Linked DNA regions of Homo sapiens. The protein of the gene in region 3 purifies or fractionates together with the protein of the main gene of each other region. This does not show direct contact. Each region holds a gene or a part of one and is shown on either strand. Other genes may lie near its edges. The genes, in order: WRNIP1, CLINT1, OSBPL10 and MMP2.

Region 1 (7,799 bases), on a different chromosome or scaffold from region 3:
TTGTTTTAGGTTAGCTGTAAGGTTGATGGTTGCATGGGTGAGTGGATCGTAAAGTCAGCACTTGGCACAGTAGCTTTCATTCTGCTGGAAATATCAAGTACATTTTTATCTCTCAGTGCTGGAAATATGGATTCTTTTTGTTTTCTCTATACTTTCCATATAATTTATAAGAAGTAAAGGTTTCACTCTGAGATTATGATAAAACTGAAGTTAGTCCATTCATTTTGCAAATATTGGATGCCTATCATCTACCAGGTCTGGGAATACAAAGAATAAAATATTCCTCTCCTTGAGGTGCTCCGCATAGTAGGGATGATGAATGTAATGTAATCAACACACAATCCAACCCATGGTGCAGGATATAGGCTAGTTCAGTCCGTTAGGATCCAATGGGGCTCCTGCTTTGACTCCTTTTTCTTCCCTCAATTGTCCTGAAGGCTTTTTGTTGCTAGGCAGCTTTCCAAGGAGAGAGAATCCATTGTTTTTACTAGTTCTGAGGCAGAAATGAGATGCCCAAGCAGTTTCTGTTCTCCCTACCTGTCTTCCCACACAGGTTGAGTGCAGTAAGGGGCTGAGAGTGCACCCTTCCCTCTCAGGCATGTCACGTACTGCTACACCCCTGTGATGCTGGTCCTTCCCCATACATTTTCTTTAGTATATGTTCTGTCCATCATTATCTTCTAAATCATCTTCCAGAAGACTTGCTAACTAATTTCTGGTTGAGCAGTGATCCCCAGGCTTTATAGAGTGCCAGTGACATGGCCTCGGTGTTTGTTTTTTTGTTGTTCTGGTGAGGTCTGCTGAGAGAATGCTACCATCAGGAGAGAGGAAGATGGGTCTCCAGGCTGCACCACTGGCTCTGGGGCCCAGGCAGTTGGCATGAGTGAGGAGAGAGTCATTTGTTGTAAAGCTGGGGCTGGCCAGTTGTCTTAGGTGTGGTGAGAGACCCACAAGGAATAACTGGAAATCAACTTTGGTAAATATGGGGGTGAGATGAGGCATCTTTAAGGCATTGGGAACAAATCCTTCCGTGAATGAAATGCAGATTGGTGTTATTTGGGTTACTCAGTGAGCAGAGTAGTGTCAGTGAGTGGGTGTATGCTGAGGAGTTCTGCATTGATCCAGCAGGCAAGCTGGGTCCCCTTCGGAAACTGCCACCCCTCCCCGGCCCAGCCCCGTTGGTGCCTGTACATTGTTTTCCAGGTAGCTGATTCGGACAGTCCTAATGGGCTTATTATTTACTGTAGATGTTCTCAGCTGAATGTTGATGACATGGGTGAACTGTAACTGAAAAATTTTATTTTTTTGCTTCACAAATGTGCAGCTAGCAGCTCAGCCAGGAATAAGACCCCACTAAGTTATGAAATGTGTTAGATGTCTTGTTTAACTCAACTAGGGATAGAAAATTTTACTGAGTCAGCCTTCTGATCATAGTTAGATCTTATTTATGAGGGTCCAAATTTAGAAATGTGACTGTAAGTTTTAGTCCTGATGTTCAGAGAGAGGTTAGGTGGCTTACCCAGGGTCTCATGGCTATGTACCAGCAGTCTTCTCGTCGCTTCCCAGGCTAATGACCTCTCTGCTACCCTGTGCGGATTTTGCATGATTAGTGTCCACTATGAGATGACCTACTGCAGCATCCCAAGATTCCCCAGGCCAAGAGAATCCTGAGACCTGCTTCTAGGACCTGCTGTGCTCAGAGTAACTAGGGACCCAATTTGTTGTTTTTAAAATGAAGGAATTGAACTGCATGATCTGGAGCCCTTCAGAGCTAATATTCAGATATAATGCTGACTCTCCCCTGTGTGGAAAGTGGTCTAAGCACATCTGTCTCATCGGATGTAGGCTGCATTTGGAACATGTTTTCCATACACGGTAATGAGGTGCTAGCATTTCTAATAAAGTTTTCACTGTTGTGCAGGGTAGAACCAGAGAGACCACCTGTCAACAGTGACTTTCCAGGCCAGTCAGTGTCTGTTTCACACAGACTTAGATGTATGAACCTATGCAGTGAGATACCCTCGACACTCATAAGATACAGGGCGATAACCTGGTGACTTAGGAGCCCCAGTCAGTTCGTAGTCTTGATGATGCTTAAGCACATTGACAAAGGTGAGAATAAGAGGCAAAGGCCTTGAACTCTTCAGTGTCCTTGCTGAGAAGTATGAGTTTCTAAGACATGTGCAGAACAAGAAGTATGCAGCCTGAGTGTGACCGTAACTAACCCTGCTTGTGTTTCAGGCCCGCCATGTTCATAGAGGATAAAGCAGTAGACACCCTGGCTTACCTCAGTGACGGTGACGCCCGAGCTGGGTTGAACGGACTGCAGCTGGCGGTGCTGGCTAGGTTAAGCTCTAGGAAGATGTTCTGTAAGAAGAGTGGGCAATCCTATTCTCCCAGTAGAGTTCTGATCACAGAGAATGACGTGAAGGAGGGCCTACAGCGATCCCACATTTTATATGACCGGGCAGGTAAGTAATTCACCTGTGGAAAGAGTGAAACCATACGGAAAGAAGTGTGTGCACACATTCTCATTTCCGGAAGCCTGACTGGGTTCCGGAAGCATTCCAGCTGGGTCCAGAGCATTCCAGTGATTCTCAGGTGGATCTGCATGTTGGTATTAAGCCTTCTACACAGGGCTGACCTTTCCGAAGAGAGGCATGAAGCAGAAGCTGCCCTGTTGAGAATCTAGAGGAGTTTTGGGGTTGGAAATGGCAGGCTGCACATTCACCTTAGAAGGTAGTTGGCTATTCCCCACCTTGCAGAATACAATCACCTTTGAAAGCCTGTGCATTCACTTGACAATGAATATGTTTTGTGATCATTTACAACGGCAGTAAATAAAAAGAGGACTTTTGTCATAATGACTTATTAGTTTTAATTGAGAATTAAAATGCTTTATTTCTAGAGTCTATACTAAAAAATAGTCATGGATCTTGAAGTTTTTATTTTATGTAGTAGCTTTTTCAAAAATTTAATTTTGCTGTGTGCACTTATCTGTTTTTGTAGAACTGCATTTACAGATAGCAGATTTGATACCAGCTCTTATTAAATCTGTGACTTAGCAATATTAAATGTCATTAGCACAGCACATTTGCATCTTTTTATAAAAGAAGTGGGAGATGAATATAACATACTGTAGATTAGCAAACTTCTGCTGCTTGAGCATTTGTGGGACTTTGGATGGAATCATGTTGCAGTAACTGTGGAATATAATTTCCACACTTTTCAAAGCTCTGCCAGAAAAGGAGGCTGATAATTGAATGTTCCTGATCTCACGTAGGCTGTGCCACGTGACAATGGAGAGTCCTTACTGGTTAGAGAAGGGGTGGAGGGGCTTAAGAATGACTTTGGTTCCAAGCGCTGCCTCTTCGTGGGTGAGCACACTCGCTGCATGACCTAGGGGGGCTGACCAAAGCTTTTTGGCTTTAGCGTGCCTCAGCTGATGGTAGCTCAGGGGTGTTCATTAGTGCTAAGGACACACTGGCAAGTTGAATAAATAATCCTGTCTACATTGTGACGTGAATGTGCCTCAGCGGGGCCTGCTCAGATGGCTGGCTCTCCCTAGTGCTCTGGAGCATGACGTGAATGCTTGCAAAGTCTGAAAAGCAACACATTCTAGGTGTGTAGAGCCCTGCTTGACTTTTGGTCAAATAGAAAAAATGTAGATATGAACAAGAAAAAAGATTTTAAGACATTAAAAAAATCTCACCATGCCGGGATCGCCATTGTTTCTGAAGTGCAGCAGCAGCGGTCTCTCTCTCTCTTCTTGTAGGTGTCCCAAAGGATTTGCCTTGTTTTGATTGGAACGACTAGGACTGTTCTTTGACATTTTATCAGACTGTCACTTGAGATCCATATAACATGGCATTCACTAACACTCAGCCATTGAGTATTTTATAGGTGTATTCATTTTTTAAATTCTCAAAATTGCTTTATGGAGATAGCTATTAATATTACCCCCATTTTAAGATAACAAAGCAAGTGGTGAAACTGACCCGTAAATCCAGGTCTTACTGGTTCCCAAGACTGTCCTTCCCCCCGTCCGCATTTGCCTCCACACCAGCCTTGCCATGCTGTTACTGATCTCACCCATTACATCATGCTCCTGAGAGGGGTCACCCGTCCATGCACATACAGAGCGGATCTTGGAGGGGTTCAGTCCTAGGAATCCCACTTCCTGAGCTCCACGTTGCAGAGCTCTGCACAGTGGGGATCACCTTGTCTATAGCTTGGAGCTGGGGGGTGGTGGAGGCTGCCTAGTGCCGCTGCCTAGTGCCAGCGCCTTAAGAACCCCACATCCTATACATCTTCCCAGTATGAGTGTGTTTACACACCCCACCCCAGTGCAACATGTCTGCCCCACAGTGGATCCGCAGACACATAAATATCATTCAGATCTTGGAGAAAGCTGCTTTTACAGGCTTTGCTCTATAAATAGGGATAGTGGAAGCATTGCCCTGGAAACCTGTTAGCTTATACTCTTGGGCCTTTTTATAACTCCAGTGAGACAAAGACCCACCCCCAGAGTTGTGATTATTTTTGTATATGCCACCTAGTTCATAGTTACCCACTAGTAGGATCCAGTGATGTTTCTGCATCAGAGTGAAGGAATTTCTAAATGAGAGCAAACTCTCTGCCATGCATTGACATCGGGGTTCTATAGAAGTCGTCAGATTTCAGGTTATAAAGCAGTGTGTAATAAAAGCAAACATGGAAGGTAGCATAGAATAATACTAGTATCTATCACTGATGCAAAAGAATCTTTTTACAGTGCCTGCTCTGTGCCAGGCGTGTGTTATTTAATACAGCCCTGTGAGGTAAGTGGTCTCGTTTTTCCCATTTTACAGATGAGAAACCTGAGGCACAGTGAGGATCAGGAACTTGCCCATGGCCCATGAGCTTGGGGGTCCAGCCCAGGCTGTTTGGTCCCAGAGCCTGTGCTCTTGTCCATTATACTGGTGGTATTGCCCCTGGCATTGACAAAGTGGGAAAAGATGACTAACCTGTGTAGGGGGAGTTTAAATTTGACATAAAGTGGTGTGGGTAGTTTCTTCCAGCCCCCATGCCCGTGAGTTTAGCCAGGCCTGTTACCTGCTACCCTCTTCCCCGCCTTCCTCCACCCTGCAGAGGAGCAGAGCGTAGCCTGAGTGCCTGGGCCAGCAGGGTGAGGGAGTGGGCCAGAACCATGCAGATGTCATCCAGGACACCCTCTCGGCCAGTGTCCATAGCACTCTGACTTCACCAGGGGAGCCCTGCACAGGAGACACTCAGTTTGTTCTCAGAAATCCAGTAGCTGGGCTGACCCATCCATCTGCCCTGGCTCTCAGAAACCAGAATCACTCAGGCTGAGCCGTGGGTCCTGCAGGTCTTTCCCCTGTGGGAGGCCAGCATCTTCGCTTGCTCTCTTCTCCACCTGAAGACCAACTGTCATCTTACCAGCGAGCTCAGCTGCCAGGGTTTGTGGCTGGCGCCAGTCGTATTGTGGACATGGGCTTATGCTGAGCACAGACCAGGTGCTCCTCTGGGAGGAGTGAGACTCACGGGAACACCATCCTCCGCTTTCTCGTGAGGAGGGTGCCCCCTCCTTGAACTTACCTAAGGGACGATGGCCAGAGAATAGTGAAATGTATGCAGGTGCCACTGCTTAGTTCCTGAGAACTGTTTAGCTGTCATTTTTTTGCCCTTAAATATGCCTTTTTTTAAAGCACATTTCACTGATTTCATGTGAATCTAGGGTAAAAATGGAGTAGTAAGACCAGGCGGTGAGAGAGTGGGCTTCCGTCCACTTCAGGGCGGAAGCTGGTTAGTCCACGTGTCGGTCCTTCTGGGACCCTGCCACACAGGTGTCCCCACACCAAGGCTGGCAGAAGGAGGTTTAAATGACCACAGGCTTCGGATATCAGAAAGGCAGCTGGAAATGACACTGAGGAACAGATGGGCTATAACAGCTGCCCTTGCCACTTGGCTCTACATCCTCCTGGCTCCGAGCAGGCCCACCGTTGCTTTTCCTCCAGTAGATGGTGGGCCACGGGATAGAGCCAGAACAGAAGACTCGTCCCCCTCCACTCTTGTCTCTGGCAAATCCACCAGCTGGGAGGACCACCTTTCCTCCCTCCTGCCTCTGTGCGTGTGCGTGCACTCCATGTCGACAGCCACAGGTTTCTGCTGCAGCAGCCTCTTCCCCTGAATAGGACTGGGATTAAGCCCCAGCAGCTGGTGCACCCCACTCAGAGCACGGTTAAGGCAGCTGCCCAAACCTCTCCTCGGCTTTCTCAGGGCCTTTATTCGTTCAGGCTTTCTGGAAGTCAGCTGGCGGAGGTGAAGATGGCTTGGGCGCCCCTCCTGTGAGCTCTGTGTGAGTGGTGCTCTTTGTGATGTCAGGTGAGGAGCATTACAACTGCATCTCCGCCCTGCACAAGTCCATGCGGGGCTCAGACCAGAACGCCTCCCTCTACTGGCTGGCTCGCATGCTCGAGGGAGGAGAGGACCCACTCTACGTGGCACGGAGGCTTGTCAGGTTTGCCAGCGAGGACATAGGTGAGTGTGATGGGAGGGTCCCGGAGTCCTATGTCCATGAGGGTGGGGAAATGGCTAACAGTTACATCGTGGCTTTTTTTTTTTTTTTTTTTGCAGGGCGGGGTGGGCGGGGGTAGCAGGAAGAATGTCTCAGGGCTATGTGAGACTGGCAGGAGAAGATAAGACTTTATGCCTGAGCTCAGTCGTTTATTTCCTGGTGTATGTGCTTTTGAATGTTTATGTTCATAAAGTCACCATTTTCTGTTTCCTCTTCGGGAATGTTTTTACTAACATGAGTGGCTATTCAGAGTATTGCAATAGATGAGCTGCTTTTAAATTTGCTTTAAGTCAGGTGTTCAAGGTTTTCTTTGGACAGCTCCCAAGGTAGAAATGGAAGACTCTAGACACTATATGAAGAAAAAGATCAGGAAAGCTCTCCTCTTCTTTGGTCTTAGGGGATGTTTTGTTTTTAGTGTTTCCATCCTGGTGAATGTCTCCATAGCCTTCACTTCTTATGTTTGTTATACAGAGACTCATGTTTTTCTAGATGCAGAGTTTTTATCCACAAGGAAACAGTTCTTAACACCACACAGTAACCACTCTCAATATTTCTTGCATAAGTTCATGGGATCAGAGACTAGAGCTAAGTCAGGCTGTTTTGCTACATGGGATTGTTTTGGTCACCAAGTGTACAAGCAGTGGTGGTCTGTGGTCGCCTGCACATAGGCCAGGAGGACAGTGTGTGTCATGACTGAAACTCTCCTTTGTCTCTGTGTGTGGCAGGTCTGGCAGACCCGTCTGCGTTAACACAAGCGGTTGCTGCCTACCAAGGCTGTCATTTTATAGGCATGCCTGAATGTGAGGTAAAGTAATCAGCTCATTTCTTGCAAATCACTTCTTTTCTCTCTCGTGCTCTGTCCCTTTGTAGATTTGAATAAATGTCCCTCCTTCACCATTGGTGTATTGGACCCACTGAGTATGCTGCTTGGCTTTGGAATTCCAATTGTAGACTCTTAGACTCCTAGAGAGGGAAACCTTCTGTGTCAACGAGGTCATGTTTCAAACTGTTCTCGGGATTCCGGGGTTCAGAGCACATGCTCCATATGTTCCAGGGAGCAGAAAGGTTAAAGGAGCTGAACAGCAAAGCCTCTGCAAGTTCGCCCCCAGAGCAGCTTCATATTCATCTCTTTTATATATTGGGGGCTTAAGAAAAATTTAATGTAGTAAAAAGTCCTTCAGTTAAAAAAAAAAATGAAAACCACTCACCTGGTTTGCCTCTC
Region 2 (7,799 bases), on a different chromosome or scaffold from region 3:
TACTGCCGGGCGCGGTGGCTCAAGCCTGTAATCCCAACACTTTGGGAGGCCGAAGCAGGTGGATCACTTGAGGTCGGGAGTTCGAGACTAGCCTGACCAACATGGAGAAAGCCCGTCTCTACTAAAAATACAAAAAAATTAGCCGGGCATGGTGGTGCATGCCTGTAATCTCAGCTACTCGGGAGGCTGAGGCAGGAGAATCACTTGAACCTGGGAAGCAGAGGTTGCGGTGAGCCAAGATCGCGCCATTGCACTCTAGCCTGGGCAACAAGAGCGAAACTCGGTCTTCCAAAAAAAGAAAAAGAAAAAGAAAAAGCTTGTACTACAAATATAAAATATTTATTGCAGAGTGTCATATATTCAGGCTATACTACAAACTGTTATTTAAAATCCTTTAAGATATGTGATAAAAGTCTCTATTATTAAAAAAATTATACAGATATTTGGCAAAAGCTGACATGGTATTTGTTATTGCAACTAAGCAGGCCTGGTTTTATTTTCAGAGTCACCTACAATCTGCTGCATACATTAGAAAACTGTTTTTCCCAGCTTTTAGCTATTTCTCTTGCAAAGACACAAACTGGGGAAACAGTAGTCGGGGAAAGTGACAAAAACAATAATTTAGTCTTTTGAGGCAAATCTCCCTATTTGGCAGATTTCTGTTGAAAAGACTAGGGTTTGGCCAGGTACCTAGCAGGTGGATTTCATCTCTATGGTAAATAAAAACAAACGAAGATGGTACAAGAGGCAGTGCTTCTTTTGATACTGATCAGTAATGACTGTGAGGCAAACACGCCTCCCTTTATAGGCAACGTTTCTACATTACATGAGATAACTTGCCCCTATATATCTCTTCTTACTCCCTCGTTTGTCATTTCTTAAAACTTTCAAATACTTCCAATGTTTTCTTTAGTGAATCTACTTGTGGTTGGTAACCAGTATTGTCTAGATGGGGACAGAGGCACTACATTCTGATTCACAACCTTCCCCAAACAAACCAAAAGTGTCATTTCTACTTTCATAGAAAGTACCCAATCATTCAGCAATTGGACAGGTTTCTCCCCTCAAAGAGATTTCTTATTATTAATGTCTCTTGGTAATACATGCCAGATGATCCATAATTAATATGATTGCCTAGAAATGCCCAAGCCTACTAATGCAGGAATTCGAAGAGCGGTTTATAAAAATAAAACCATGTATAATGTGTAAACTACTGCCATTCCCACCTTAACTGAAGACTGAGGTGTGTGGGTTGAAGCATTCTGATCTGGACTTGCTTTGTCCCCTGTGTAATGTGCTGCTGCTCCAAGATCAATGGTTTTGGAAGGATTTGCTGTGCGCTTGTGTCTGGTTGTGGTGGTCTCTGTGGCCTGTGTGATATGAATATGCTTTGTCGTCACAGTCTCCTCTTCATCTTTGAATTCACCTTTGGGAGATCTGCCTCTTCTCGCTTTCTTTTCCTCATCGCTGTCGCTAAAAGATATTAAAAATGAAGCAAAATAATAAGACGGGATTATTTTAAAATGGGTCCCTCAGTGATTTGAGCTAAAGAATTTCAAATACAGTAACTCCAAAATTTCATACTTTGACTACTTGACAGGGATCAACAGAATGTTATCTAAGCTGTCTGAATAATGATATATGTGCGCTGGGGAGGGGAAGTGGAAACACAGAGAATATCCTATATAAGTCTAAAATACTGCTACAAAAAAGTATTTACATAAATGTGTATAAATAAAAAATGTCAAAATAACTCGTTTTTATTACAGATTTAAGCTTAACTTAAAAATAAAATAGGATTTGATATCAGAATCCATGATAAGACCCTGAGAGTTCAAACACTTGCATGTGATGATTATTTTCTTGACATGGACTGTGTGCAAATTACTATAGTTCCACTTTTACAACACAATTCTGCATCAACTCTCAAAGACTAATGTGTGTACATAATAAAATAATAAAAGTTCAATGGATGCTAAAAAAATCACACATCTTAATTCGAATAATTAAACTCATCTGTAAATGCATGAAAATATAAGGGAATGCACTTTACAACTGTGCTATTTTACTATAGTATCAGGAGATCAAACTTTTATATAACTATAGAAAATGCTTTCTAGAAAACAACTGTATTTAAAATATTTTAAAGATAATTCTCCTTCAGCCACATTCAACAATTTTTTCTTTCCTTTTTCTTTAATAGTGAAAAAGATTTTAAAAACTAAACAGTAAAAGCCTGGGTTTTTCATATGCTAGGAATGAAAATATCAGCCCTAGTCTGTTCTCTAGTAACAAGTCATTGGGTTTTTTTCTGATGTAAGTAGGAGAGAGAGAGAGAGAGAGAGAGAGAGCGAAAGAGAGAGAAAGAGAGAAATGTTACTTGAAACATGTTCCATTACCTGTATTACTTAATTTTAGAGTAGGTGGTTTAATTTATAAATATTCTGGAATATAATGTTTAAAATTCTCCTTTAAACTGCTGATGCAATTTACCTCAGACTGAACTATAGCAACTTGTACTTAAATATAAACCAATCTGGAACTTGTATAAATCAAAGATCAAAAAGAATGACTTCCCACACAGAGCAAAGGGGTTAAATATATTTTTATATATAAACATTTTAAGGAACCTACAAGTTCTGATACGCATTCAAAAGCCCTTACTAACTTCTCAACAACAAATGACCTGAAGATTCCCATTAGTCCTACAAGTAAAACTGAAATTTCTTACTTTTTTGGTGTCCAATTTTATTTCAGCGCAAAATAATTTATTCACAAGTTGAAAATATAAATCTGACTAGCACACGATGAAATGGAAGCTCCATATCTGATCAATGTTCAAGAATTCCTGAATGTAATAGTGAACTAATAAGTATGAAATTCAGGTAACATGCCATCAGGATTGAGGTCATATGCAACTCTGTCAAAAAATCTACTCTTCTCTCACAAATACTTTAAGATAAAAAGTTCCTGGTGTGCCCTATCATTATCACGATAAATCATGTTCACTGCATTTTCACTCTTTTAAACCTAAATACTCCTTAAAGATTTAGAAACTCTAGGAGATCCTGTCTTAGAGGCAACATAAAAAATAAAAATCATGGGAGAAACAGAAATAAAAGAAGAGTAGAGAGACAAAGAAAAGAAAAACTAAGGATAGAAGGGCAAAGGAGAGAAAGTAACAATACAGAACACACACAGATATCTAACCAGCCTACATAGCGTTATTGTTTATAAGTAAAACCTAAGACCCAACCAGACTGTGTGGATCTGCCTAAAGTAACACAGTTAGTGGTGGAACTGAGCCTGCCCTGAAATGTCTCTTTTTCAAGACTGTTTGAAAAACTGGAATGTGATCTTTGAAGAGCTAGAACTTATTTTTAGCACTTTGAATAAATCTATTTTACAAGTATATATCTAGCTTTTTTATACTGAAAAAGGATGCATATGATAATTATAAATACTAAACATTGGGAGGGAAATGGTGCCCACTTCAAATATACAGAGCTGTTTCCCTCATTAATGTTTTTGTGGCCTGTGTAAGTTTTGGCTTGGTTTGGAAAACATTATTGAAATTATGGCCATTATTCTGTTGGTATTTCCTGAACAGGCATTCCAGGGATTTAAAAGATATGAAAACATCCTAAAAATACACTAATTAGATTGTATTTTTGTTTGGACCTCTTTTTAATGATCCCTAATTCTGAACTATTAGGATTTTTGGCGCAGGGTAAAGAAAAAGAGATGGCATTTAGTTACGAGAACTCACTTGAAGGCTTGGTTCCATCACTAACTGTGTTATTTAGGCAAGTCCACACAGTGTGACTGGGTTTTAGGTTTTACTTATAAACAACAAAGACAAAATTCTTATTCTACTCTAGTAGAGATATTGTGAGGCACAAATGATAAAGGTCAAATTTAAAAAGTAAAATTTGCTCTGTAAATTAAGTGCTATATGCATTACCCTTTACATTCTCAGAAAAATTGGTTTATAATAATATTGGTAAGTAAGAACAAAAGTGACTGCTGCAAAGCTCAAAGTATTGTTCCATGTAAAACTAAATACCATCAGAAAATGTAGTTTATAAAAATACAGCTCTATTCTCAAAAACTGGTTCAAAATCCATTTGGATTGTTTTTCTGGTACACACTGGCACAGAATCATAATGAAATGTCAAGGAAGCATTAAATTTCAAATCCTTTGACTTATGTTTAATTAAACTTAATATATAAACTTCATTATCCCTCAGTATCTTAGGTCCCTGGATCATCTAAGGTCCAAATGCAAAATAATCTATACAAGTTTTTACTGGGGAAAAAAATCCAAGGAAAGACTACTAGCTTGAATAAAAATACACAGGATCAACTTCAAAAATAAGTAGACAGAGGCAACATGGAAAGTATGTCAATACTAATTGCAAGTAGTGTATAACCTAGTATCTTAAAAATAGTTGCACAGTGCTTGCTTCAGCAGCATATGTACTAAAACCAGAACAATACAGGGAAGATTAGCATGCCCCCTGTGCAAGGATAACTTGCACATTTAAGACTTGTTCCACATTTCTGCACAGGGCATATTTATGGCAGTGAAACTATTCTATACAATACAGTAATGAGGAATATTATGCATTTGTCGAAACCCATAGAAGTGTACAATATAGGAAACCCCAACGTAAACTACAGACTTTAGTTAATAAGTGTATCCATACTGGCTTTTCAATTGTTAACAAATGCACCATAGTAATGCAAGATGTTCACAGAACCTGTTATGAAGGGGAAGTGGGTATATGACAACTCTGTACTTTATGCACAATTTTTCTGTGAGCTTAAATTGCTCTAAAAACAAATGAAGTCTATTAAAAAAAAAAAAAAAGGCCCAATTTCAGATAATGTTAATACCCCAAACAAAACCAACAAAAAACCAAAAACCCAGTGGCATAAATTTAGGGCTCTTTCTAAGAGACCCGGGAGACAAAGTGGTAAAATACCTGCATCTTTCTGGAGAGTCTTCTCTATCTTTCCTCCGGAACTTGCTGATGGTGTCATCAATTGTGCTTCCAATTTTATCACTCAGCTCACCTAATTTATCACTGAATGGAAAAGCACTCTTGTTTTTATCCCACTCCTCATCCCATTTTGATTTGGGCTCAGGATCATATCTTTCACCTAGATAGAGCATTAAAAAAAGAAGCAATTCTAACGACATTAAATTCAAAAGGTATCTACAAGTCCTTATTTCTCAGGCTTTTCCTCATAATAAAATCATTTTCAAAGGAAAACAGAAAGCTCCCACAGTGCTGAATCAACACAATTACAGCAAGGCATAGCATGTAATGCCAGTCATTAAGTGGCAGGAATGCAGATTCAAAAGCTTTTGTTTATGAATACTTACACAACCTTAATGCACAGCACAGCATATCAGGAAATTCTTAAAGGCTACTGAAAGGAGTAGTGGAAAACACAAAACCAACACAAGCTATATAAGCAAAAGAGAAATGAAAATCTTTCTGTTTTCACAAAAGACACTTAATATGTTATATTTTATTCCTGTCCCTTAATGGTTTCCCAATTTTCAGAAAAGCATTGGATAGCAACAGTATCTTAAAAAATACAACTGAAGGAACTCCAATCTGAATGCTACATGTCCCAATAAGCTAAAAAGTCTCAATAACTGTCACGCCTCAGTATCAAACTAAAAAAATAATTCAATGAATTTTCAGGGGATGGGAAAGCATTCCGTAATTACTGTACAAAGAAAGGATTACTCTAACTACCAAAAACTACACATACTAGAATCAGGAAGTATGCTCAAACAGTAGTTCAGAACAGTGTCAACCAATTCAAACACCCATTCCAAACATATGCTGAGACTGGCGAAACCTAGAGCCTCTGTGTGAATTTGGGAATGCAGAGAATAGATCGTGGCAGTAAACAAAAAACCCAAAATGTCAAGATTTGTTTTAGTCCTTGCCCCTAGGGACCCAAAGGAGACATAGGAATTACAGACACAAAATGAAACCCTTCCATTTCCATGTCCAAATCCAACTTAAGAAGCAACAGTAGAAGGTACAGAGAGCACGTGAGGTATTTTTAAAAAAGAAAACATTAAAAATTAAGGCAGGTTGGAAGAAAATGAAAAGGACAATGAGAAACAACAAAATAACTAAAAAGTGGCTAATGGAGCTTTTGTTTTGAACTTTTGTTTACAGGATCTAAAAGGATACATAGCCTTTGGAGATTGAACAAAACGATTTTGCTGAATTGCCTCCTAAAATTGCAAGGCTAAAATTTTCTGTTACATGTTTAAGGATTTTAACATATTTACTGAATCTGGAAATGACCATCAACTTAAAGAAAACATGACAAAATGAAGTTTTCTAGACAAAATTTAAACCAGGATGGTTTTTTTAAAAAAAGTGATTTTCCAACAATGTGTATGTACATTTCAACAACAGTGTGATGAACCAGACTTCGGAAAGAAACAAATTTACACGAAAAATGGAAGTGGATGAAAACCAAACTGATTAGCATGGCATGGTGAACATCATACTGAATTACTGCTAAAGATACTGGATATTGGCAAGACATTATCTAATGTCAGAATGAAAAAACACAAAACTGGCCGGGTGCGGTGGCTCATGCCTGTAATCCCAGCACTTTGGGAGGCCAAGGTGGCTGGATCACTTGAGGTCAGGAGTTCAAGACCAGCCTGGCCAACATGGCGAAACCCTAAAAATACAAAAATTGGCGAGGCATGGTGGCTCACGCCTGTGGTCCCAGCTTCTTGGGAGGATGAGGCAGGAGAATCACTTGAACCCGGGAGGCGGAGGTTGCAGTGAGCTGAGATGGTAACACTGCACTCCAGCCTGGATGACAGAGCAAGAATCCTCAAAAAAAAAAAAAAAGAAAAGAAAAAGAAAAAACACAAAACTGCTAAGAGTGATTAGTTAAGTCTGAATAACATAAACCATGAACAATAACTTAGCAAAAGGATGTGATGCAAACACACAGGATATCCAACTCTATCTTTAATACAGATGCTGCAGTTAGTGCATTGTGACTGAGTTTGAAAACGTATTCAATTTTCTAAGTTTAGCTGATATAATTATATATCATGCTGGCAAAAAGAAAGATACAAGCAAGAATAGTGTGGAAATAAGTTTCAAATAGCAATTTCTATTAAAAACACATTAAGTTGCTACAACTACTTTGAAAAACCTGAAGAATAAAGTTACTACTTGGGTAAATAATCCAAAAACTTTGGACTTCCCCAAATAGAAACTTCAAAACATTATTTATATGCTTTAGGAGAAATATTTTTGCCCAATTCAAAAACTAACTTGTGGCCGACTCTGGTTGCACTGCCTATGAGTTAGCCCTATTTAAAAAAAAGAAAAAGAAAAAACTAACTTGTATTTGATGCTTCAATATAAAAAAGGGAATTTTTCTGCTGTTAGAAACATCCTTAAACAGCTAACTAAACGCAGTGTTTTTTCTTTGAGAGTGGGAAAGCAGAGGAATAAATGAGTAAGGATATTTTATATGTTAAGATTTTTACATGGTTCCATTGAAGGAGATATGAGAGCTCAATATAATCCAAATATAAACATATATGGGTGGGGGGAGCTGGAGAGCCTCAGTGAACAGCTGCTAAGATACACAGCACTGGCCAGTCTGCACATACACAAAATGAGCAAGAGATTGTCAGAGCTCACAGAAGACAGAACAAGTCCAAAGGGACATGCCGTGAAAGACAGTTCCTATTTTGTGTATCTGCTTCAAGCACCTATGCCCTATTT
Region 3 (7,799 bases):
TAATCCTTGTTAAATTCAAGCATCTGTGTTACTGGTTCTTCAACTTTTTTTTGAGTCACAAATCTCTTCAAGGCTCTAAGGCTGTGATTCTCTTCCTAGAAAAAAGGAATCTAACTCCAAATTTGTCTTTGAGTTTCAGGGAGTACATGGCTCCTTAGAAGCCCTTCCAAAACCCCATGAGATAAGAGCACCTTTCATTCACTTAGCACATTTTTATTGAGCACCTACTAGATGCTTGGCATTGCCTTAGGAGCTGTGGTTACTTGAGCAAACAAAACAGACCAAAAAAGATCTGTTCTGATGATGCTTCTGTTCTCCTTCTTTCTCACGGGGAAATGAAATAAATAAGTAAATAAAATGGATTGTGTGGTAAGTTGAAGAATGGTAAGTGTTGTAGAGAAACAAAGCAGGTGGGGGTCCGGGGAAGACCAGGGAGAGGGCAGTTGAGCTTTCAGATGAGCTGGCCAGTGGGAAGGCCTCACTAAGGTGATATTTGAGCAAAGACCCAAAGCGGGCAAAGAGGGGTAAGGCAAGCCTTATAGGTCACTGGGAAAGAGTTTGTGTGCAGAAAGAATGAGGCAGAGGCCTACAGGTAAAATGTCCCTGGCACGGGGATGGAGACAGGAAGCCCATGTGGCTGGAGCAGGGTGAACAGGGGCAGGTGGAGGTCAGGGAGGTGATGGTGGCCAGATCACATAGGACCTCATGGGCTATTGCTAGGGACACTGGCTCTTACAGTGAGGGAGCCCTGAAGCCACTGGTGCTTTTGAGCTGGAGAGTACCAGGCTCAATCTCATAGTTCAGCAAGACTGCTCCAGCCGTTTGTTGAAAACAGACCCTGGGCGGGGGTAATGGTGGAAACAAGGAGACTAGGGAGGAGGTTGTGAGAATAACTAAGCAGGTGATGATGGTGGCTTGGACCAGGTGGAAAATAGTGGAGGAAGTAAATGTAGTGGAGTAGTAAGGATCTGGATAGGTTCTAAAGTTAGAGCCAAGAGGATCTGCCTCTGGATGGGATGTGGAGTGTGAGAGAAAGTGTTGCCAAGGTTTTGACCTGAGCACCTAGAAGGATGGACTAGCTGTTAAAACTGAGATGGGGAGACTTGAGGGCTGGGTATTGGGCTACTTTGAAGGAAGAGTATGGGAGCTCAGGGCGGTTGTTAGGGTTTAGTCATTGAAGGGAGTGCTAAAGTAGGCAATTGTGTATGCAAGCTGGAGTTTCATAGGGAGGGTCCTGGCTGAGATAAAATATTTAAGGCCTTGAGACTAATGAGACTGCTGAGTGAGCACTGATTTCTGAAGCATTAAGCAGCATTAAGAGGTCTGCAAGATGAACAGCCAGCCGAGGAGACTGATGAGGGGTGGCCAGAGAAGTAGACTGAATGGAATGGGAGAAGGTGCTCCTTGCGAGGCAAGTGAAGAAGGGCTTCAAAGTGCGAGAGTGATCAACTGCATCACATGATGCTGGTTACTCCAGTAAGATGAGAACTGAGAAGGGATCATGGATTTTGGATCATGGAGGTCATTCGTCACCTTGACAGCAGTTGTCAGTGGAGTAGCACTAGTGAAAATCTGACTAGAATAAAGTCAAGAGAGAAGGAAGGAGAGGAATTAGGGACTGTAAATGTGGACAGTTCCTCCTTATTTAGGGTTTGCATGCAATGGTACTGTTTTGGAAAATAGCCACTCTTGGGTTCCACTTCTCTGTTAGGTTTACACCCCAAAGCGCTGCTCCCCCTCTTGCATAGGTAAGATGGCAACTCCAGAGTGCCCACAGGTGTACTCAGCATTCGTGTTGGGCCTTCACTGGGGTCTTCCTTGCATGCAGGTCTAGTAATCAGCAGCTCATGCTGCACTCGTCACACCTTCCTCTCAAGGATCAATCAGGATCAAGAAGTTCACCAATGAGACATTCATTAATTTGTGTAGGAAGCTAGGGACACACCTGTCACCAGGATGATCTTGGGTCACCCAGTTTAGGCCTTTTCCACAATTCAGATGGAGGTGGGTTGTATCTGTGGGGGAAAGATGTAAAAATACATCTATCTTTAGATAAACCTCATCAATAATGAGTATTATCCTCCTCTTAGGTTATCTTCTGTAAGAGTGCAGTATTACAACTATTTTCCAATTAGAAAAATCCCAATTCATGACTGGGTTGTCTGGCTTTTCCTGCTGTTGACAAGGGGAGATGGATGCCTGAAGTGGTCTCTCTTCTTAAAGAGGAGTTGTTACCAGTGATGACTGGACCATGAAATCTTGTAGCTGAAAGGGCATTTGTCCACCATATGCTCCAGGGTTTCCAGCTGTGCTGTAGAGAATCCCAGGCTCCTTAGAGGGGCACAGGAAGTGAGTGGCAAGGTTGGTGTTCTTCCAAGTCCACTCCAGCCCGAGTATCTCCATCCATCCTTACCTATTTACCAGAGGGACTTCCCTATACAAGTTTATTTCCGAAAGGGTTCTGTTGCTTCAGAATGCTCAGCAGACCCCGGATGAGTCCAGCTATCCTCATTTCACAGATGAGGAGCCCGAGAGAGGCAGCTTGCCTAGGAACCCATGCATAATTCACAGTATCCATCCTGCCCTCAGCACAAGCCATTGAAGGGGGATGCAGGGCAGGTGCTGGGGTCTCCTTGAGTCAGGGGCCATTTCTCAGCTCATCTCTGACCTGTGGATGAGATACCAGAATCTGAGGAGGTTCAGGCAGCCCCCTGAGTTCACAAGCCCAGGAAGAGCAGAGGAGCAGGGTTGAGCAGCAGGCGGTGGGCCGGGGAAGGGGGATCAGGTCAAGGGCGATTAGAGCCCTATATGGACACAGCCAGGGCTGTTGAGGCCTCTCTCTGACACTGAGAAAACAAACTTGATTCAAGTGTGCTTCTGTGGGGGCAGGGCTAGAGGAACGAGAGGTATTTCCTCACCGGCCTCTTTTCTGACCCCAGTGACTGCTTGTTCTCCTGAACTCTGCCTTCTCCTTGGATGAAGCGACAGGGAGCTACCACCGTGCAGCACTGTTTGGGTTAAAGCCCCCTGGCAGGTTTCAAAAAGGTGTTTCAGCCCAGACTGGGGACTCTTGAAGTTGTGTGAACTAAGAGCTCCGGTTAGAATACTCGGGTAACTCTTCCTATTGAAAGCAGGGAGAAGATTGCCAAGGACTCCCCTGTGGGAGGTTTATGTTCACATTGATTTTTATACTTGAGTTTGTAATAAGAAATGGGAGCAACATTAATCTTGATTTTGACTTATCTGGGGCTCTGTGTTTTCATAGGTTGCTTTGGGCTTGGCTCGTGCTATGAGGTTTATATTGGTAAAAAATCTTTTCCTTTTCTTAAAAACAAAAATTGGTATTCAGGAGACTCATCTCATTCTATTTAATTTTATTCCTTATTCTAAATTTCCCACATAATAAATATTTTGAAGATGAAATATGTTTGTTTGCCAGAGAAGGTAGAGAAGGCAGTTCACACTTTGTATTTATGCCCCATATGCGAGATAATTCCTTACACATTTTCTACAGTTAGTATTTTAATCATGTTTACCTCCTTATCGGTAACAGTGGTGGCTCGAATAAATCTGTCATTTACCCATTCACTTATCCATTCATCCATTTATTTGTGAAGTGATTGGCACCATCCTTGATGCCAGAGATGCAGCAGAGGCCACAGCACACAGATTCCCTGCCCCCGGGAGCTCATGCTCCAACAGGAGGGTCGGAGAGAAGACAAGACATGTGCGTGAAGTCCTCAATGTGATGGATGATGACTGACACTAAGAGACAAAGTAGGAAGGAGGAGAGTGAAGCTGGGGCAGGGAGGTTGCAATTTTCAATAATGTGGACCTCAGCAAGATAGAGCAGCTGAGGAAAGGCCTGAAGCAGGTTTAAGAAGGGGTCTTCTATGCAAAAAAGAACAGCAAGTGGTAAGGCCCCAAGTTGGGAGCTAGTGGCTGGGGTGTTTTGAGGACAGCCAGGGGCCACTGTGTCTGCAGCAGTGAGTGCGTGGCTGGGAAGAGAGGAGATAAAGCCAGAGAGGAGAGGCCACATTTTGGGATCTGATTTTGGGGCTCTGGAACGTCTTTGCCGTTTGCTCTGAGATGGGAGTCGCTGAGGGTAGACATGATTTTAGCATCCCTGTGTTGGCTGAGTGAAGAATAGACTGAAGGCAGAAGTGGAGAGGGCCCAGTGCAAAGATAGAAGCAGAGAGGCAAGTTGTTTCTTATTTCTCTTCTTCCCTCCTACACACACACACACACACACACACACACACACACACACACACACACACAGTTTGAATCTGTGATTAGTCAGAGTAAGTGCTTGGTGAATAGAATGCCTTTTGTCTGGGGATTTCCCTGCACTCAGCAGAAGTGCTTGTTGCCGCTTGTCAAGGCCTGAGAAAGCCAGATTCTTAAATTGGAGTAGAGGGTCAATACCTCCCAGTCTGTGAGCCCCTAATTCTTGCCATTAGACAAATATGTGGAAATGTTCGAAAAGGTAGATTTGCAATCCATTTTTGGTGATTTAGGGAATTCTTCACAGAAACGCAATCTCTCCCTTCAGGATCCTTCCTTCTCTACCAAATAGCAGTCACTTTTCCCCTGTCCCCGACCACCAGCGGTGGGCTCCGACAAGGAGGTGGCTGTGCAGTGGTGTCACGTGTGTGATTGTGTTTTAAAGCTGGTTATTCTCTCTTCCCCACACAATGTGTTCATCTTTCCCTTCTTCCCTCTACACAGCATGTTCATCATCATCTTCTTCCCTCTGCTTCCCTGCACCCTTGTCCTTCCTGTCTCCCTCTGGTGTCTCTAGCCGTTTCACTTAAGCCACACCGTCAACGGGGCACCCCTCAGCCCAGCACAGCACATGGCCTCCTGTCATTGCCTCTGCAGCTGAACTTGAGAGAGTGATGAGGTCCTTTTAGCCCTCTGTCCCCTGAACTAACCAACATCTTTGCTCTGTCTTTTTTTTTTTTTTTTTTTTTGAGACGGAGTCTCGCTCTGTCGCCCAGGCCGGACTGCGGACTGCAGTGGCGCAATCTCGGCTCACTGCAAGCTCCGCTTCCTGGGTTCACGCCATTCTCCTGCCTCAGCCTCCCGAGTAGCTGGGACTACAGGCGCCCGCCACCGCGCCCGGCTAATTTTTTGTATTTTTAGTAGAGACGGGGTTTCACCTTGTTAGCCAGGATGGTCTCGATCTCCTGACCTCATGATCCACCCGCCTCGGCCTCCCAAAGTGCTGGGATTACAGGCGTGAGCCACCGCGCCCGGCCTTTGCTCTGTCTTATGTTGGCCGTTGTTGAGTGTCCGTGTCTCCACAGGGTAGGCCTGTGAGGTCTCAGGATCATAGCTCCTCTGTTTCTCATAGGCAGCAGGCAGAGGCTGGAGCCCTTGATTCACTTTACCCAGCCCAGGACCACAGTGTCGTGGGTGAGAAGCCGTGGAACACCCTCTCCTGAGGCCCTCAGATGCAGCCTGCAGATGAAGCAGAATTAGAATTTGTTGCTCTCACTTTTTCTAACTGCTTGAAAATGCCACTCAGAATTTCTCAATAGCATGCTGAGTTCAGAAAGAAGATTCTGGAGAGAGACTGTGAAAGGCCTCTCCTGGACATGGCCCTTCCTGGCCACTCACCTGATGTTTTCCTGCTGTGGGTGGGCCTGGGCATGGCCAGGGGACCCTTGGCTCGTTCTTGTGAGGCCTTGAGTTTGCCTAAGTCCCTTCAGTAGCTGCGTCCCCTTATCTTTTGTATTAATTAAAATGTGTCCGCTGTAATGCAGGATCTGATTTTTCACACAAACTATTTCTAAGAATCTCCAAACTTCGAAGCAGAAGGTTCTGGCTCCCACACTCAGAGCTCCTTTGATTGGGGGAAGGCAGGAGGTTGGATAATTTCCCTTCCCTCGCATATTTCCTGCATATTCTATGAATTTGTTGATTGGGTGTAAATAATGCTTTTTCCATCTCCTCATTATAAAAATGAGGTCTTACATGGGTCCACTTGGAATTGTGAACGTAAATACGTGGGCTCATCTCCTAAATCATGGCCTTTAGGCTGTGGCATATTTGACTGTAATGAAATGCTATTATGAAGTGCTTCATTATGCCCTGAATTCACTCACGTTGACCCCAGAGACTGCACCCCTTTCTCCCACCCTCTCGTTTCTATTGCTCTAACAGTGAGAGCCGACACTGTTCAGTCAACCTAAGACCTCTGTCCACGGGAAAGTGTGGGCTGCTCACCCCTCCCAACCTCGCACCGCTGTGGAGCTGAGGGGCGTTCAGCTGCTCTTTGCAGCCCACTTCCCTCAAAATGCCTGAATCAATGCCTGGTAAATGGTGCAGGCTCTTAATTGAGTCTGTGGGGAAAAACAGTTAGTTCTAATGAGAGGAAGCAACATGATTGCCACTGGGCTTGTGAGTGCCAATGCTGCCGGGTCTGCAAACACACTTCCCAGAGTTCCTTCTGTGACTCTACTTTCCAGGATGAATGTCCCAGCTGAATATTTTGGTTCCTCAGATTGAGATTGGACACAAAATTATTTTAAGTTTATCAGTTTGAAAATCTTAATGCTTTGCCTTTATTGGCGAATCAATTTGTGGAATTTCAAATGAAGATCTCCCAGCCTGAGGAAGATGCATGGAAGGATTGATTATTTGATGTTTTTTTTTTTTTTGGCTTCTCTTAGCTGTTAGGCCAAATGAAGAAGTAACTTATATTTGTGATCCCATTTGTAAGTCTAATTTTAATATGTCTTTTATTCATATTAAGGAGATTTTTTTTTAAATGCAACCCTGAAAAAAAAGAGTATGTACTAAGAAGGCATAATTGCAGGTGATTTGATGAATGAACACACATTTATGGATTTTCAGAAACAAGCCAAAGGCATGTGGTCTTGCCAGTGCCTTCAAATCAGTTTAGCTCTGAGGCTCACTGACCTCCCCCAGGACTTGGGGGAAATTTTACCTTGATTTGGAAGAGATTTTTCTGAAGAAAAATGGGAGGAGGATGCTATCTCTTATGCAGTATTACATTAGAGAAAGTCTGCCCTGTGTCTCTTCCATCCCTCACAGGTATAGCCTATTGGAAGACGTTGTAGTTTCCTCTTTTTTTTTTTTTTTTTTTTGAGATGGAGTCTCGCTCTGTCGCCCAGGCTGCAGTGCAGTGGCGCAATCTCGGCTCACTGCAAGCTCCGCCTCCCAGGTTCACGCCATTCTCCTGCCTCAGCCTCCCGAGTAGCTGGGACTACAGGTGCCCGCCACCATGCCCGGCTAATTTTTGGTATTTTTAGTAGAGATGGGGGTTTTACCATGTTAGCCAGGATGGTCTTGATCTCCTGACCTCGTGATCCACCCGCCTCAGCCTCCCAAAGTGCTGGGATTACAGGCGTGAGCCACTGCGCCTGGCCCTGCAGTTTCCTCTTTATTGCCAGTTGGTGATACCCATCGAGAGGGCTGCTTTAAAGAATGAGGAGTAATTAAGACATAAAACCTTCAGGATTTTGGCAGTGTGCCATGCTGCAGTGCTGTTAGCTGAGTTTAGAATCGCCTTCTCCATCTTTACGACAGCCATGGGAGATACAGATACCATTATCTCTGCATCACAGATGAGGAAACTGAGGCACAGAGAAGTTAAGATTGCCAGGCTGGTGAGTGACGGAGGACTTGGAATGATCCTCTAAGATTTCATCCAGGTCTTAAAAAAAGTCGTGGCATATTCTCCATGAAAAAACATGGTGAAGAAAATCTCAGCTGTATAATCCTACCTTACTACAAAGTTTATATTTATGAATGAGACTAGGAATACC
Region 4 (7,799 bases), on a different chromosome or scaffold from region 3:
GCTCCCTGAACCTCTGCAGGGACCTGCTCAGTTTGGGCCTCAGTTTGGGCAGGGCCAGTTGTATGACTCATGAAGGACAGGACTACTTTCTTTTTGCAAATGGCTGATTCAGGATTTAAACCCAGGTCTGTCTACTGCCAGAGCCCATGCACATAGTCCTTGAATCTCTTTAGAAGAAAACAGGAGGAAAAAAGTCCCCAAGTCACCAGCCGCAAGGTAGATAAATGAGTTGATAGAGGTAAAGGAAGGATGCTGGAGTATAATGATTCCATATCACAGCCTCTGGAGCCAGATTGCTTTGTCCCAAATCCAGATCTACCATTTGTGAACTGTGTGATCGTAAGCAAGTTTCTTAACCTCTCTGTGCTTCAGTTTCCTCCTCTGTATAATAGGGTTAGTATATCTACATTACAGAGTTTTGAGCATTAAATGAGTTAACATATTCTGACTTTAGTGCCTGGACATATAGTCAGCACCCAGCACCAACAAGTGGTAGCCATGCTCTCTATAGCTGTATGTCCTGTCGCTCAACTAATGGGTGACCGTGCTGGTTTGGGAACCCAGTACTCCACCCAGTGCTCTGGGACCCCTGGCTTATTTCCTGTCTGGACTATGGCACTGGGTTGGGGGGCTGATTGCTACAGCCTGCTTTGGTCAGTACTGTGCCATCCTAATGTGGCTAATTGCCTTGGGGGTGTGCATTTCTTTCAGCAATACCTGAACACCTTCTATGGCTGCCCCAAGGAGAGCTGCAACCTGTTTGTGCTGAAGGACACACTAAAGAAGATGCAGAAGTTCTTTGGACTGCCCCAGACAGGTGATCTTGACCAGAATACCATCGAGACCATGCGGAAGCCACGCTGCGGCAACCCAGATGTGGCCAACTACAACTTCTTCCCTCGCAAGCCCAAGTGGGACAAGAACCAGATCACATACAGGTGCCGGGGCAGGGCTTGGGGAGGCAGGGCCATGGGGCTGAGGGACACGAGTCTCCTTGACCCATGCATTCTCTCCACTCAGGGGATCCATGAGGTGTCTTTTGTGAAGGCTTGACATCTTAGGGAGTTTCAATACACAGTTCTTAGAAAATGAAGTCAGACAGACTTGAGTTTCATACTTGCTGGCCATGAGACATTGGGTTACTTTTCAGTGCTGTGAATGTTGGCTTTCCAATCTACAAAATGGGGCTTAAAAAATGCCCTTATATGGTATGTTGGGGAACTAAGCTAGGCTGAACTAATACAAACGGCTTCTATGATTTTTGACACAGAGCAAGAGTGTAGTAATGCTAGTCATTGTTATTGTTTTTAGATGAGGTCATTGGGATGGGCAGAAGGAACGTGATGATTGGTAGCTAATTGGGTTTAGCAGCCCAATTGGGTTATAACTGGTTGCTAATTGGGCCAAGAGCTGTGCTCTGTATGGGTGGTGCTGGGTTCCAATGGTGGGATCTTTGCCCTGTGCCCCATAATGCACTACTTATGGCCCTCCCCCACCAGCCAGAAGTGACAGATGGAACTCCTGAGCTGGGGCCTAAAAATGTTGGCTGGCCTGGGACTCCCTGGGTCTTCAAGGCATTCTGGGAGGGTTGTCCTTGGCAGTGAGCCCTGCCCAGCCTACACACACATACACGCAGGCACATGCTCACATATACATACACATACCTGTGCACCCTTCCCGTGCTTGTGCATATACTTGTATGTTCACATACACACACACACTCAAACTTTTTCATACATCTGTGCACACACACATACTTGCATATACATACACTTATGCACATGCATACACACTCACATGCAGTTCTACCACCTCCAGGATCATTGGCTACACACCTGATCTGGACCCAGAGACAGTGGATGATGCCTTTGCTCGTGCCTTCCAAGTCTGGAGCGATGTGACCCCACTGCGGTTTTCTCGAATCCATGATGGAGAGGCAGACATCATGATCAACTTTGGCCGCTGGGGTAGGCAGAAGATGGGGCAGAAGAGGGGCCAGCAGGGATCAGTGTTGAGACGAGGGGGTGAGATGGACATTAGAGGGGCGTGGGGATCCTAAGGGCGGCTTAGATAGGACAGTAGATGGTGTGGGCCCTGGGGGTGGTTTAGATGGGGGCAGCACAACACGGAGTGGACACTGGAGAGCCACGTTGACATGGGGGCAGATGGTGTGTTGTGGTATAACCTGGAGGCCGTCTAAACCCGAAGCAAGTGGTCTACTGTGCTGTCCAATATGGCAGCCATTAGGCAGAATATACATGGCTGTTTAAATTTAAATTAGTTAAAAATTTTAAATTAGTTTCCTGGTCACACTGGGCACATTTTAAGTGCTCAAAAGACACAGGAGGCTAGTGACTATTGATTTTGGACAGCACAGACAAAGAATATTCCTCTTAATCACAGAAAGCTCTGTTGGATGATGCTGGTAGACACTGAGGAACTGTAGATATATGAGAGTGGTTTGGAAACAGTGGAGCAGTGTAGACACTAGAGGAAGGGTCGTAGAACCTGGGGCCAGGTGGCCATGTGAGTTTATGGTGTGAACACTGCCAGTAGCACAGACATAAAGGTATGTGGTATAGACACTGAGTGGTAAGTGATGAAGGTAAAGAGCAGGGGAAACAATGTAGACAAGTGGGTGGGTGGTACAGGCCTTGGTGACAAGGTGGGCATGAGGATTCATGTTGCAGATATTGGTGATAGTGTGACATGAAGGCAGGATTGTGGTTAAGAGGGCAGTATTGACAGGATGGAGGATGGCATAGACACTGGGGATGATGAAGATGGGGTGAGGACACTAGTGTGGTAATGTGGGTATGTGGTACATATAGTGTCATGGTGGTAGAGTAGACAATGGAGGTAGAGGGTATGGATACTGGGAGTCATGTAAACCTGGGAGAGCAGTGTAGACCATAGGATGGTAACAACCAGGTCAGCAGATCTCTACTGAGCTCCTGTTGACAGTCCTGGATAACCCCACTGGGACAAGGGAAGGGGACAGATGCTGGGTGGGCTGACAGGCTCCACATGTAGATGGGGTGTGGAGGGGTTTCAGGGTCTAGGTGGCACAGCTAGACGCTAAGACCCAGTGTGTGTTTCAGAGCATGGCGATGGATACCCCTTTGACGGTAAGGACGGACTCCTGGCTCATGCCTTCGCCCCAGGCACTGGTGTTGGGGGAGACTCCCATTTTGATGACGATGAGCTATGGACCTTGGGAGAAGGCCAAGGTGAGAAAGGGGCCCTCTGCATGCCCCAGACCTTCTCTCCTGTCCTCTCTCCACTCCATTTGCTTGGACCAGAGAGGTGGGAGGGGAGGAAAGTCACACATCTGGGTGAGTCAGAATCTTGGTCTCCAAAGAAGGCCTGGAGAAGTCCAACCTCCCCCTTCCATGTCACTCTTTAGTGGTCCGTGTGAAGTATGGGAACGCCGATGGGGAGTACTGCAAGTTCCCCTTCTTGTTCAATGGCAAGGAGTACAACAGCTGCACTGATACCGGCCGCAGCGATGGCTTCCTCTGGTGCTCCACCACCTACAACTTTGAGAAGGATGGCAAGTACGGCTTCTGTCCCCATGAAGGTGAGCATCCACTCTAGTCCCCAAGACTTTCCACCCCAAGCCTCCAGCTTCCCGGGCTCCCCAGTGTGCTCTTCCCTCCACACTCTCCAGGACTGGCTGCCACTGCCAGTTAATGAGCATCCCTCCAACGTCCTTCACTCAGTTCCCCCCCATCCTGATCTGAGCCATTGCTGTTTCTCTCCCACCAGTACCATGATGAACGTAGTACTCTAATTAAATCAAGTTGATTTTTTTTAAGTTTCACCATTAGCAATCATTTAGGAAGTCACAGATTTGATTTGCTAATTATTTATTTCTAATATATATTGGAGTGAACTTAGAACTATTACAATGCCCAGTGGTTCTCTCTAGAACCAGTCTTTACACTTCAGTCAAGATTGATACTTCAAGGGCATGAGGAAAGGCTTGCTGGTAGCTGGAAACCTAGCAGTGTGATAGGGAGGCAGGACTCAGACCAGGGCTGGACTCAACCTGGTTTGCGTACTCCAACTGAGGAATTTCAGCTATTGCTCCTGCCTTGGTCCTGATGCTGCCTCTGCTAATGCGTGTGTGTGTGTGTGTGTGTGTGCCTGTGTGTGTGTGTGTGTGTGTGTGTGTGTGTGTGTGTGTGTGTCTGGGCACGGGGGCTATACTATCTGCCTCTCTTGGGCACTGTCTTTTTCTGCCTCCTGTCTAGCTTGTGTCTGCATCTCTGTGTCTTGATAAAGACTTTAGGCTTGACTCAGTATTTGTGTTTGTGTGCTTGTCAGTGCCTGAGATGCAACATTTCAGAGATTTTGAAGCCACATGGGGGAAATCTTTTAAAATGGGGTACAGATATTGACATACACACTCAATCCTTTTTAAAAATATCCTTGACACACTTAATAGTCATAAATCACAAAAAGACAATGTAACTTCATACTCTATGAAGTCATCATATTTGATAATTCTGCAGATTGAAAGCCCAGAAAACCTGGCGAAAATGGAAAAAAGTCTAAAAATTTTTAACACTATCTTCTTTCCCATGTCACAAAGACTCTATAGTCTACATAGACTAAAGACTGTCTTTTTGTCTGTAATTTTATGTCTGTGAATCTCCCTAACCCCACTGTAACTGAAAACTAAGCACCAACCATCTTGACAGAATGAAAGAAACAAAGAGCTAGTTAATTCCCTTCCTGTTTATGCTTTTACTACCAGAGCTAAACTTTATATTAAGTAAGAGTTTAAGCCATTCACCATTAATAAGTCAGACATTTTGAAATAAAAATATTTTTTGTATCTTGCGTTTCCCGGTAGGGATTACATGTGGCGTTAACCCTTCCCTGTGTCACCCCTCTGATAGGAACAGAAAGCTTTGGTGATAGTTAGATGTGGAAACAGCTGTATTTCATAAATTTGGGAAGGGTTATTCCCTGCATTGGACATTAGCCATTTACTTTGTGCTTAGCCAGATGCAAGTACGCACAACACGCACGTGTCTGGGTCTCGAGGCAGAGATTGTTGTTACTCAGCCCCTGCTGATGGCTGAGTCAGTGTCTGATTCTTGCCATCCTTGTCAGGGGAATTTGGGAGGAGACAGGGGCTTCCTGGGTGGTAGAAATGAGAGGTCAGAGGCAGGGGGCTGGCATTGGTCGAAGTTAACGCTTTGCCTTTCTCAACTCTGAGGCCACTAAGGTATCTGGACTCAGTCTTGCCTTTTCTCTAGGTGCCATTGTTTCTGGCATTGCAGGACAAGGTCTTTTGGTAGAGAGGGGAGTGGTGAGGATACAGGGCCTCGAGTTCTGTGGTGGGAGGCCAGGGACTGGGCTCCATTCCGGCCATGGTGGAGTTAACGGGGGCTGGTGAGGTCACCTCTGGCGCCGTTGTGCACAGATGGTCCTTGTTATGGACTTGTGGTTTTGCTGGTTGGCAATTCCAGAGACACCATTTTTTAGCTTTGGGTGGATGAGGGGAGGATGGGGAGAATCCAAGACAGACAGGCCAGGCTCTGAACCCCACTCCCTCCCCCAACTCTCCATTTATGGCCCCTGTCTTGAAGATGTCAAAGTAGGAGCCCAGAGTGTTTAGTAAAAGGGACCTGAAGGCACCACCTCCCTCTCCCTCCCTCCTCCTCTTCATTCTTTCTCTCCTTCCTACAGAGACTGCAACAAGGCCATCCAGGAAGGGGCCTGGGGTTGACAGGAGGTAAAGCAAGCTTTCTGTGTATGCGTGTGCACGCACACACACATATATGAGAGTGACAGACTAAGCAAGAGAGATTGAGATTAGTGTGTTTTGTAGTTTTTAGTTACAACCTTCATTCACTTCTTTCATTTCTGTGACCATGAGCAGTTTGAGAACCATCTTTGTCCTAGCCTTGATTTCTCCACCTATCAAATGGAGAGAGATTCTCGTGGTCCTGCCTGCCATGACTGATATATTCATGTCATACATCATTATTACATGAAATTTGCATGGTACAGGTGTGGACCAGGCAGAATGGACAGTGCCCTTGGGGCTGAGGCAGGGTTCTAGAAGCCCTTGCTGTGTGCCAGGTGTCAATCATTTTGTTGTTGGGTGGTCCACAAGGTCCCACGGGAGGGATTGGGATAACCAGGGAAGCAGGGGTTCTCTCTGGGAGCTCAGAGAAGCAGCTCCTTACCAACCAGTAGAGATGTTTTCTTAATATTTTAACAATGCATCAACTTCACTGGTGTGAACCGGCAGGTGGGCAGCCAGCCAGCCCTGTGCCCATGGAAGCATGTCTCATTCACATCCTTCCCTCTCTCCCCCACCCTTAGCCCTGTTCACCATGGGCGGCAACGCTGAAGGACAGCCCTGCAAGTTTCCATTCCGCTTCCAGGGCACATCCTATGACAGCTGCACCACTGAGGGCCGCACGGATGGCTACCGCTGGTGCGGCACCACTGAGGACTACGACCGCGACAAGAAGTATGGCTTCTGCCCTGAGACCGGTGGGTGCCACTCCCTCTCCCTCCCTCAGGGCCCAGCACCTGCTGTCTGACAAAAAAAAAACCCATAAGACTCCGAGTGCCCACCTCCTTTCCCCAAGACAGGGGTGCTAAGACATCTGTGCGAATGACATCCACACCAAGATGTCCGTGTAGCTAGTCAGGATACTTGTCACCTGGTATGGCCTGGGCACTGAAATCAGAACAGACATTGGGCATCAACAGTTGAATTGGTGACACTTAAATGTCAGGCCTGCTCAGGATCCTCTGACCGACCTGCATCCCTTTTCTCTCAGGCTCTCTGGCAGAGACTTCTCTCTCCTCCTCTCTGACCCTGCAATCTCTCTTCCCTGCCTTTCCTGGTCTGTATCTCCACCTTTTAGTCTGTTTTTTATTAAGAGCTCCGTGCTTTCCTCCCTGTCTCCTTCCTGCCCTCCTCTCTATCCCTCCCTCCTTTCCTTCTTCCCTTCCTCCAACAGGAATTTACTGAGCGCCTGCTTTGTGCAGCATACACAGAGGTTGGTCTCTGCAAAGCCCTGCCCAAGGGGGCTCACAGCTGAGGGGCATGTGCTGGTGCCATCAGCTTCATCCAACTCCCTTTGCCCCTAGCCCATCTGCCCCCTTCCATGGGAGGCTCATTAGAACTCTGGAATCTGGCTTCCTGGGTTTGAATTGCAGCTCTGATACTTCCTAGCAGTGTTGGCTTAGGGAAATTTCATCATCTCTCTGATCTATTTCCCATCCATGAAACGCGGTGCTATTCAGTCCCTCCTGCACAAGGCTGTTGTCAGGGGTGGGTGAGATGAGTCTAAAGATACAGTGCCTGGGACTGAGTCTAACTTAGGTGTGGTTCATTAAGGTCAGCGTCATGTCATTGCTTCCTGGTGGTAGCCTCAGACTCTTTGCTGCGCCTTGACCCGTATCCCTAACCCCACAGCCATGTCCACTGTTGGTGGGAACTCAGAAGGTGCCCCCTGTGTCTTCCCCTTCACTTTCCTGGGCAACAAATATGAGAGCTGCACCAGCGCCGGCCGCAGTGACGGAAAGATGTGGTGTGCGACCACAGCCAACTACGATGATGACCGCAAGTGGGGCTTCTGCCCTGACCAAGGTACGAGGCCCTGGTCATTGGACAGAGACCCTGGACATTGCCCTTGCCCCTAAACTTGCTCCAAAAACCTTCCTGAGACCTCACCCACTTCAAGCATAGACACTGCCCCCCAGACACCCACCTACCCAGACCCGCCCACCTGGGCTGAGACAATGCCCATCTCTGGTGGAGC

Evidence for each region.
Region 1: the proteins of OSBPL10 (region 3) and WRNIP1 purify together in Homo sapiens (affinity purification with mass spectrometry; one large-scale study listed by BioGRID and IntAct). This does not show direct contact.
Region 2: the proteins of OSBPL10 (region 3) and CLINT1 purify together in Homo sapiens (affinity purification with mass spectrometry; one large-scale study listed by BioGRID and IntAct). This does not show direct contact.
Region 4: the proteins of OSBPL10 (region 3) and MMP2 purify together in Homo sapiens (affinity purification with mass spectrometry; one large-scale study listed by BioGRID and IntAct). This does not show direct contact.

The regions. Positions count from the first base shown.
Region 1 is NC_000006.12:2,777,022-2,784,820, forward strand, and holds part of WRNIP1 (ATPase WRNIP1), read left to right. Parts: intron 1-2,241; coding exon 2,242-2,471; intron 2,472-6,384; coding exon 6,385-6,540; intron 6,541-7,302; coding exon 7,303-7,382; intron 7,383-7,799. UniProt on the Homo sapiens protein: Functions as a modulator of initiation or reinitiation events during DNA polymerase delta-mediated DNA synthesis. In the presence of ATP, stimulation of DNA polymerase delta-mediated DNA synthesis is decreased.
Region 2 is NC_000005.10:157,804,640-157,812,438, forward strand, and holds part of CLINT1 (clathrin interactor 1), read right to left. Parts: intron 5,167-7,799; coding exon 4,989-5,166; intron 1,474-4,988; coding exon 1,227-1,473; intron 1-1,226. UniProt on the Homo sapiens protein: Binds to membranes enriched in phosphatidylinositol 4,5-bisphosphate (PtdIns(4,5)P2). May have a role in transport via clathrin-coated vesicles from the trans-Golgi network to endosomes. Stimulates clathrin assembly.
Region 3 is NC_000003.12:31,675,265-31,683,063, reverse strand, and holds part of OSBPL10 (oxysterol-binding protein-related protein 10), read left to right. Parts: intron 1-7,799. UniProt on the Homo sapiens protein: Probable lipid transporter involved in lipid countertransport between the endoplasmic reticulum and the plasma membrane.
Region 4 is NC_000016.10:55,482,198-55,489,996, forward strand, and holds part of MMP2 (72 kDa type IV collagenase isoform 1 preproprotein), read left to right. Parts: intron 1-711; coding exon 712-938; intron 939-1,818; coding exon 1,819-1,967; intron 1,968-3,101; coding exon 3,102-3,230; intron 3,231-3,406; coding exon 3,407-3,580; intron 3,581-6,345; coding exon 6,346-6,519; intron 6,520-7,453; coding exon 7,454-7,627; intron 7,628-7,799.